Linked DNA regions of Homo sapiens: region 2 is linked to region 1. Evidence: fine-mapped QTL for protein levels in blood plasma. Region 1 holds a variant in brackets. A gene starts in the other region. All regions are shown on their forward strands.

What was found. A credible set is the group of variants that fine-mapping cannot tell apart. PIP is the chance, under the fine-mapping model, that this variant and not a neighbour inherited with it causes the effect. Protein levels are from antibody-based Olink assays in UK Biobank. Linkage for the fine-mapping came from a reference panel and not from the study's own genotypes, which makes the PIPs less certain.
Region 2: FCRL1 starts here. The variant in region 1 is the best candidate, but not a certain one, in a credible set for the plasma level of the FCRL1 protein (UK Biobank, PIP 0.56).

What each region holds. Positions count from the first base shown.
Region 1 is chr17:16,112,690-16,117,689 of GRCh38, forward strand. The region is part of intron 18 of NCOR1 (nuclear receptor corepressor 1); the gene reads right to left. Among named protein-coding and RNA genes, the nearest start is that of SNORD163, 38 kb to the right of the region's middle. RefSeq lists a silencer at 937-1,134. The variant G/A (reference allele first, on the strand shown) is at 2,058.
Region 2 is chr1:157,817,854-157,822,853 of GRCh38, forward strand. FCRL1 (Fc receptor like 1) reads right to left here and starts at 2,267. Exons shown (of 11, transcript NM_052938.5): 1 at 2,154-2,267. The coding sequence starts at 2,184.

The sequences.
Region 1 (5,000 bases):
CACGTTGGCCAGGATGGTCTTGATCTCTTGAACTCGTGATCTGCCCGCCTCGGCCTCCCAACGTGCTGGGATTAAAGGCGTGAGCCACTGCACCTGGCCAAAGAGCTTTTCTTTATGGGAGAAATATAGACAGCCAGATAGACACTTACTATATCAGAAACTAAAACTAAGAAAACTTCAAAATTTTAAATTATTAAAAACAATATAAACTCATAAATTATTATTTATTTATTTATTTTGAGATGGAATCTCGCTCTGTCGCCTAGGCTGGAGTGCAGTGGTGCGATCTCGGCTCACTGCAAGCTCTGCCTCCTGGGTTCACACCATTCTCCTGCCTCAGCCTCCCCAATGGCTGGGACTACAGGCACCCACCACCATGGCCGGCTAACATTTTTTTCTGTATTTTTAGTAGAGACGGGGTTTCACCATGTTAGCCAGGATGGTCTCGATCTCCTGACCTTGTGTTCTGCCCTCCTCAGCCTCCCAAAGTGCTGGGATTACAGGCATAAGCCACCGCGCCTGGCCAAGAATTTATTTTTTTAATGAAAAGTAACCATTTTCCAAAAAAAAAAAAATGACTTACTAAAACAGTGGCACAACCTTCCCCTTTTGGAAATCTCTTCCATGTCTGATCTAACAGAGACAGCACAATTCTCAAGGTGCTTCCACATATGATCTAATCTGTGGATTACATTAAGTAATCTAATGTTTTGGTTGAAGTATAAGAAAACAATGTAGCCTCACACAGATATGTCGTTGGAAAAGGGAAGAATATTTTAACAGATTTTTCAGATACTTATGCATACTATTTTTTGATACTGTACCAAAACTCACCAAGTGTCACTTCTTATTTGTTAGTTACAATATGAAATCTTATACCATATCAAGGAACCCTTCATACTCTGTTAAAATCTATAATCTGGCCAGGCGCGGTGGCTCACGCCTGTAATCCCAGTACTTTGGAAGGCTGAGGCAGGCAGATCACTTGAGGCCAGGAGCTGAAGACCAGCCTGACCAACATGGTGAAACCCCATCTCTACTAAAAATACAAAAATTAGCTGGGCATAGCGGCGTGCGCCTGTAATCCCAGCTGCTAAGGAGGCTGAGGCAGGAGAATTGCTTGAACCTGGGAGGCGGAGGTTGCAGTAAGCCAAGATCATGCCACTGCACTCCAGCCTGGGCAACAGGGTGAGACTCCATCTCAAAAAAAAAGAAAAAAGAAAAAAATCTGTAACCTATCTTACGTTTGGTATATTAAAAAAACATTATCAATCTTTTATCAATGCATGATCCATTATGTATTAGTTCATTTTCACGCTGCTGATAAAGACATACTTGAGACTGGGAAGTAAAAGAGGTTTAATGGACTTACAGTTCCACATGGCTGGGGAGGCTTCACAATCATGGCAAAAGGGAAGGAGGAGCAAGTAACGTCTTACATGATGGCGGCAGGCAAAAAAAAAAAAAAAAAAAAAAAAAACTTGTGCAGGGGAACTCCTCTTTCTAAAACCAGTAGATCTCCTAAGACTTATTCACTATCACAAAAATAGCATGAGAAAGACCTGCCCCATGATTCAATTATCTCCCACTGGGTCCCTCCCACAACACATGGGAACTGTGGGACCTACAATTCAAGATGAGATTTGGGTGGGGACACAGCCATACCATATCATTCTGCCGCTGGCCCCTCCCACATCTCATGTCTTCACATTTCAAAACCAATCATGCCTTCCCAACAGTCCTCCAAAGTCTTCACTAATTTCAGCATTAACCCAAAAGTCCATAGCCCAAAGTCTCATCTGAGACAAGGCAAGTCCCTTCCCCTATGAGCCTGTGAAAGCAGAAGCAAGTTAGTTACTTCCTAGATACAATGGGGGCACAGGTATTGGGTAAATACAGCTGTTCCAAGTGGGAGAAACTGGCCAAACGAAAGGGGCTATAGGGTCTATCCAAGTCCAAAATCCAGCAGGGCAGTCAAACCTTAAAGCTCCAAAATGATCTCCTTTGACTCCATGTCTCACGTCCAGGTCGTGCTGATGCAAGAGGTGGGTTCCCAC[G/A]GTCTTGGGCAGCTCCAATCCTGTGGCTTTGCAGGGAACAGCCTCCTTCCTGGCTGTTTTCACAGGGTAGCGTTGAGTGTCTGCGGCTTTTCCAGGCACACAGTGCAAACTGTAGGTGGATCTACCATTCTGGAGGATGGTGGCCCTCTTCTTACAGCTCCATTAGGCAGTGCACTAGTAGGGAGTCTGACCCCCCATTTCCCTTCTGCACTGCCCTAGCAGAGGTCCTCCATGAGAGCCCCACCCCTGTAGCAAACTTCTGCTTGAACATCCAGGCGTTTCCATACATCCTCTGAAATCTAGGCAGAGGTTCCCAAACCTCAATTCTTGACTTCTATGTACCCACAGGCTCAACACCATATGGAAGCTGCAAAGGCTTGGGGCTTGCACCCTCTGAAGCCACGGCCCAAGCTGTACCTTGGCCCCTTTCAGCCATGGCCAGAGCTGCTGGGGTGCAGAGCACCAAGTCCCTGGGCTGCAAACAGCAAGGGGGTCCTGGGTCCAGGGCATGAAATCATTTTTTCCTCCTCAGCCTCCAGGCCTATGATGGAAAGGGCTGCCATAAAGACCTCTGACATGCTGTGAAGAAATTTTCCCCATTGTCTTGGAACTTAATATTCAGCTCCTCATTACTTATGCAAATTCCTGCAGCAGGCTTGAATTCCTCTTCAGAAAATGGGATTTTCTTTTCTATCACGTTGTTAGGCTGCAAATTTTCCAAACTTTTATGCTCTGCTTCCCTCATAAAACTGAATGCCTTTAACAGCACCCAAGTCACCTCTAGAATGCTTTGCTGCTTAGAAATGTCTTCCGCCAGATAACCTAAATTATCTCTCTCAAGTTCAAAGTTCTGCAAATCTCTAGGGCAGGGGCAAAATGCTGCCAGTCTCTTTGCTAAAACATAAGAAGACTCACCTTTGCTCCAATTCCCAACAAGTTCCTCATTTCCATCTGAGATCACCTCAGCCTGGACCTTATTGTTCATATCACTATCAGCAGTTTTGTCAAAGCCATTCAACAAGTCTCTAGGAAGCTCCAAACATTTCCACATTTTCCTGTCTTCTTCTGAGCCCTCCAAACTGTTGCAACCTCTGCCTGTTACCCAGTTCCAAAGTCGCCTCCATATTTTCAGGTATCTTTTCACCAACACCCTACTCTACCAGTACCAATTTATTGTATTAGTCCGTTTTCACGCTGCTTATAAAGACATACCCAAGACTGGGAAGAAAAAGAGGCTTAAAGGGCTTACAGTTCCACATGACTGGGGAGGCCTCACAATCATGGCAGAAAGCAAGGAGGAGCAAGTAACATCTTGCATGGATGGGGCAGGCAAAAAAAGAGAGCTTGTGCGGGGAAATTCCTCTTTATAAAACCATCAGATCTTGTGAGACTTATTCACTATCACGAGAATAGCATGAGAAAAAGGCCTGCCCCATGATTCAATTATCTCCCACTGAGTCCCTCCCATGACACATGGTAATTGTAGGAGTTACAATTAAAGATGAGACTTGGGTGGCAACAAAGCCAAACCATATCACATTATAACATCATGAAATGGCCATTTGGAAAGTAGAGTTAAAGCAAGTTTTTCAAATTTGGATACATTTCATCACACAGTAACAACTATCGCATTTGCTATTATTACCACTGATCTCATCAGAAAATCTGTAATGAGAAGGTGTGAAGCTCATGGTTAGAGAAACATATTTTCCAAAATTCTCATTTTTTGCTTGAAAACTCAAAATTTTAAAGTGGCAACAAACACTATCAGTTATTTTATTTCAAAGACAGCCTCATTCACTAATTTTCAAGAAAATGTCTCCCAAAATCCCAGTCTGAAAACATAGTTTGTCTGTCATTCTTTCAATCTAAAATGACATTCCATGAAAAAGGGGAGGCTGGTGCAACTTAGAACTCGAACAATTGCCAAAGTGCTTTTCCCTGAGAGAACCATCATATTTTGGTATAGAGCAGAACTTTATGTTTACTTCCCATTACATGACACGAAGTATAAAAAGACATACTCAATGGGTGAGATTTAATAAAATTAACTTTTACTGCGTCATCAAGGACATTCTTAAGTGACATTTTAAGAAAAAACTGCAAATGCTCAGCGATGAAAAATACATTGAGTACTAGCACCGTTTGGTTCCCTGCCAAGATTTATGCTTAGGCATCAGCAATTTTATCTACCACAGCTTTGACACCATAAATGCAAATGTCATATACTGAAAAAAAGTAAATAACATTTGATTGATATTTTTATGAAAACAGTCTTGACCTCATGGAATCATCAAAAAGCTCTATGGTCTTTGACAACCACTACACTGGAACTTACTTATTAAGGAATTTCCAATAATGTTATACTCTCTGGTTTTTAATATTTATACCATGGAATCTTCTCTCTGAAAAAATGTCTAATATACCAAATCAATTCACTCGATATTATCAACAGACCTCCAACTAAAGTTTTCAATTCAATCTCCAAAAAGTTTGTATTTTTCAAATCCAGCCTACAGTAATTCAAGAGTATTTAATTCCCTTTACTACAAATAGAAACTTCGGAGGAGGAAAGATAAGCTGGGGCAGGTCATGATGGGCCTTGTTTGGACTGTTAGGAATACAAATAGAAACTTTACTCCTTGAGCAATAAATAGAGAAACAGCTAGCCTATACTAAAAATTTAGCATACCTTTTACATATAAGTGCAATAAATAAAAATATAAGATACAAAAAGGTTTCTCTTAAAACCAATCTCTGGAGCTCAGAAAAAAAAAAAAAAAAAAAACATCAAGGCTAGATGCAGTGGCTCACACCTGTAATCCCAGCACTTTGGGAGGCTGAGACAGGTGGATCACCTGAGGTCTGGAGTTCGAGACCAGCCTGGCCAACATGGTGAAACACTGTCTCTACTAAAACTACAAAAATTAGCCAGGCATGGTG
Region 2 (5,000 bases), not on the chromosome of region 1:
GTCTAATTCTCAAAAGAAGAAATGCAAATGGCCAACAGGTATATGAAAAAATGCCCAATATCACTAATCAACAGAAAAATGCAAATCAAAACCACAATGAAATATTACCCCATACCTATGAAAATGACTATAATCAAAAAGACCAAAGATAACTAGTATTGTCAAAGATGTCGAGAAAAGAGAATCCTCACATGCTGTAGGTGGGACTGTAAATTAGAACAGCCATTATGGAAGACAGTATGGAGGCTCTTAAAATATAAAAAATGGAACTACCATATGGTTCAGCCATCCCACTACTGGACATGTATCCAGAGGAAATTAAAGCAGTGTGTTAAAGAGATATCTGCACTCCCACATTTATTGCAGCACTATTCACGATAGCCAAGACAGCATCAATGTAGATGTTCATCAAAAAATTAATGGATAAAGAAAATGCAATATACATACATGATGGAATACTATTCAGACATAAAAAATAATGAAATCCTATCATTTACAACAACATGGGTGAGCCTGAAGGATATTATGTTAAATGAAATGAGGTAGGCACAGGATGACAAGTACTGCATTATCTCACTCATGTGGAATCTGAAAACGTTGATCTCATAGAAGGACGGTGCAGAATCATGGTTACAAGAAGCTTGGGTAATAGTGGGGAAGGAGGAATGAGGGAAATGTTGCTCAAGGGATATATAATTACAGTTAGATATGGGGTGTGTGTCCAGAATAGACAAATATAGAGAGACAGAAAGTAGATAATGATTGCATGTGGCCAGAAAATAGAGGGGTGAGGATAGGTGAGGCGTTGGAAAAAAAATTGGGGATGCCTGCTAGTGGGTATGGCGTTCTTTCTTGGGTGATGAAAACATTCTGAAATTGATTGTGGTGATAGTTGCACCACTCAGTGATTGTCATAAAAAACCATTGGATTGCATAACTTAAATGGTGAATTGTATTATATGTGAATAATATTTCAATAAAGCTGTTTTTAATAAAAGATACTGTAGCATGTTTGTATACTTATGGGAATAATTTAGAATGAAGAAACATATTGATGATGGAGCAAACTTTTTGAGAAAGTAAGAGGGTCATGGGCCTAATGCACAAGTGGAGAGTCTTGTCATCAACAAGATGAGGGGCAATATATTCGTGGTAGGGGAAGAGAAGGCAGTGTATGTGAATGCAGAGGTGAGTAGGTCAACAGCAACAGAAAGATGAGAGAGTTTTCTTCTGACTGCTTTTATTTTCTCAATGAAATATGAAGCAAGATTACACAATGAGAGTGAACAGAGAAGTATGAGGTGACAGGATAAGGTATGCAATAGTGATAATGGAGCAACATGGACTGTGAACATGTAGGATAATTGCCTGGCATTGCTGTTGGCTACCTGAGATTTGGGGGTCCTACACTTAAAAGGGGATAAGTCATCAGGGTTGTGCATTTAAAAAAAAATCCCATTCAGCTGTTTATGTCCAGGAGTGAAGCATGCAGAAGGGCGTGTAAACCAGGAGAGTGCTATGGGGGAAGAGAGATGAAGGTGTGCTCGAGGGAGTGTTGTGGTGGTGAGCTGCAGAATCTGAGCTGAGCACCATGAGAAGTGAGCACATGAAGTGTAGTTACTGATAATGGAAAAGTAGCCCTGGGGTAATTGAAGTCATGTTGGAAATAGAGTGCAGGAGAAAGTGAGCTAGAAACACAACTTAGTGGGGGTGGGGGATGTATGCTGAAAACAAAGGAGTGATGATAAGTTCTAAGGTTTGACTGTGGGAATGGGGAGTCAGAGAGGGATAAAAGGAAATAACGTTGGTAGTAAGAAGGGCAAGGAATTCAGAGGCCTATTTATTATACAGATTTTTCTTTTGGCAGCTGTTGAAAACACTGAGAACAAAGACAATTATTGATGGAAAGGAAGACAGACAGTGAACACTTCCTATGAGATAAAAACTGAAATGATAGTTTTCTTGAAAACTCTGGCTTTTTGAAATATCTACAACTTTTTGCCTGACTCTGAGCCCTCCGTGGAAGTGGAGATCTGAGCACCCCTGAGCATTACCTGACAGAACCTTAGTCCTAAGAAGTCCTTACAGCCCTTCAGGAAGCAGAGCCCAAGCATGATTGCATCCCATGCCCTGCTCTGAGTTGCCCAACTCACCACAGATCAACAGCAACAGCCTCGGCAGCATGAGGACCAGGTCAGGGATGGTACCTAGAGATGCCTCTCATCAAAAAAAGAATGCACCTCAGAGTCGAGCAGCAGCAGCTCATCAGAGGTTTGAGGAAGTTGATATCGGAAGTTACCCTTCAGCAGAAGTAGAAGGAAGAAGAACCCTCTAGTGACCAGTCTCCATTTCCTTTTCTATGAAGTCTGAGAAAATTAAAGATGCTCCTTTTTAAATATAGTTTGATTCAGTTCCACAAGCTGCAGATAGTACACATCAATATTTGAGGGACTTTTTCAAGAATTCAGGTATTTCAAAGGAAGTTTTCTAAAGGCAGTTTCCTACTTTGATGAGTCTCATCAGGTTATGGTCCTGCTGAAATTCATCTTTGATACATCTACAATACTTTTCACCTTTGATAGGGATGTCTCCTGGATTGTTTCTAATTGGCACATTCTTCTTGCTCAGCAATATAGTCCCACTATGCAAACTTTCTCTAGTATAGTCATATTATGCAAACATGTCATTAAATCAGGGACTGATGGGGCTGTCACCCCGGTTATGTGTAGTGTCTGACCCTTGCTGCATATGATGACTTATGTACAGGGTCAACCTATTCATACAGATATACGCTTTGATATTCAAACTTTCAGTGTACCAGTAAATGAGCATGAAATCACTGAAAAATAAAATCACGGCAAATTACAATCTGGGGGATATTTGAAAATGAAATACAGAAAAGAAGTATATGCAAATTAGCTTCAGGGCACTTGAGAAGGGTTCACCATTAGTACTAACTCTGGCATTTGTAAAATTGCCCCTCTTTTCCCTCAAAATCAGGGCACCTATAATCTCTCCCATTGCTACCTTTAGCACATTAGGGATACCAGTTCTAGGCAAGTGAAGCCTAGATTAGGGATTGGAGGAGAATAAGCTATCTTAATTTTCAACATTTCTTAAATCCGTGAGTGTCTAGGATTAAGAATAACTAGAATGTGTGGAAAGTAACCTATTAGGGGAAAGATGCTGTCAGGCAATGATGTCTAAGTCCAGGTATCCAGCTCAATGAGTATGACTGAGAAAAGAAACTATTCAGTGATACGCAAAACCAGAGGGAAAAGGGAGCAATGTTGGTAACCAGGCTAACAGCGAAAGTGCTGAAAACGAATAGGTATTCCATAGCTTTATTTATTGGCTTAGGAAAGCCTGTGTGGGGATAAGCTTGTTTAGTGTAAAGTTTCAGGACCAATGCAAAAAAATCTCCTGAATGAGAATGTAGAGCCCTTTAAATCCAGGGTGTAAAGCTGTTTTTGCATACACTCTGCTGTTTCATCTCTCTCTTTTTCTTTTAATCTGTTGGTTTTTTTAATGTTTTAATTGACACATTGTAATTGTACATATTTATGGGGCACAGTTTGACATTGCAATATAATACATATATATGTTGTACAGTGATGATCAAATCAGGGTGGTTGGCATATCCATTGTCTCGTGCAGTTTTCATTTCTATGTGGTGAGAACATTCAAAAGCCTCTTTCCTAGCTATTTTGTAATATATAATACCTTACTAGTAACCATAGTTACCCTACTGTGCAATAAAACACCAAACCTTATTCCTCCTATCGAATTGGCACCTTGTACCTGTTGACCAATCTTTCCCTCTCTTCCCTCCTCATTCCCTCCTCAGTCTCTGATAGATGCTATTCTATGCTATACTTCCATAATATCAACTTCTTATTTTTTTCAGATTCCACATATAAGTAAGTTCATGTGGTATTTGTCTTTCTGTGTCTGGCTTGGTTCACTTAACATGATGTCCTCCAGCTTCATCATGTTGTCACAAATGACAGGATTTCATTTTGTATGGCTGAATGGTATTCCGTTGTATATATACACCACATTTTCTTTATGGATTCATCTGTTGTTGGGGTCTTAGGTTGATTCTCATCACATCTCTTCCTGTGTGTCCTGCTCCAGTGCCTTCACAAGATGTTCAGATTAAAATGTGTTTCCTCCTCCACAGATATAAAGGCTATAACATTTTATTTGTTAAGCTCTCTCACACTTTTATTTTTATAATGTGATAGTTCATGCATGCATACAAAAAAGTAACATGAATATAAATTATGAAATACTACGATGAAATGAAAAGCCATGAGCCTATCCCCAGACTGTTTTAAGAACTTGAACATAAGGCGGGCGGATCACGAGGTCAGGAGATCGAGACCATCCTGGCTAACACAGTGAAACCCCGTCTCTACTAAAAAACACAAAAAATTAGCCGGGCGTGGTGGCGGGCGCCTGTAGTCCCAGCTGCGCGGGAGGCTGAGGCAGGAGAATGGCGTGAACCCGGGAGGCGGAGCTTGCAGTGAGCCGAGATCGCGCCACTGCACTCCAGCCTGGGTGACAGAGCGAGACTCCGTCTCAAAAAAAAAAAAAAAAAAAAAAAAAAAAAAAAAGAACTTGAACATAACATGATACTATTACATCTACTTGAGTGTGCCTTTTCTAACCCACTCCTCGTGTACTCTCCAGAAGTAATTACCACTCTGAATATTTTGTTTATAGTTCTCTTTCTTAAAAATCAGCTTATCGAGTTATAATTAATATACATTGAAATGAACCCATCATAAGTATATGATTCAATGATTTTTGACAAACATACACACTGATGTAAAAGCAATCACTGTCATGATCTAGAACATTTCCATCATCTCAATGGGTTTCCTTGTGTGCCTTCCCAGTCACCCCAAACCTCCCAGAACCAGGTAACTCTCCATCTGCTTTCTATAGATTTGATTTGCCTTTTCTAGAATTTCCTACAAATTGAAACATATAAT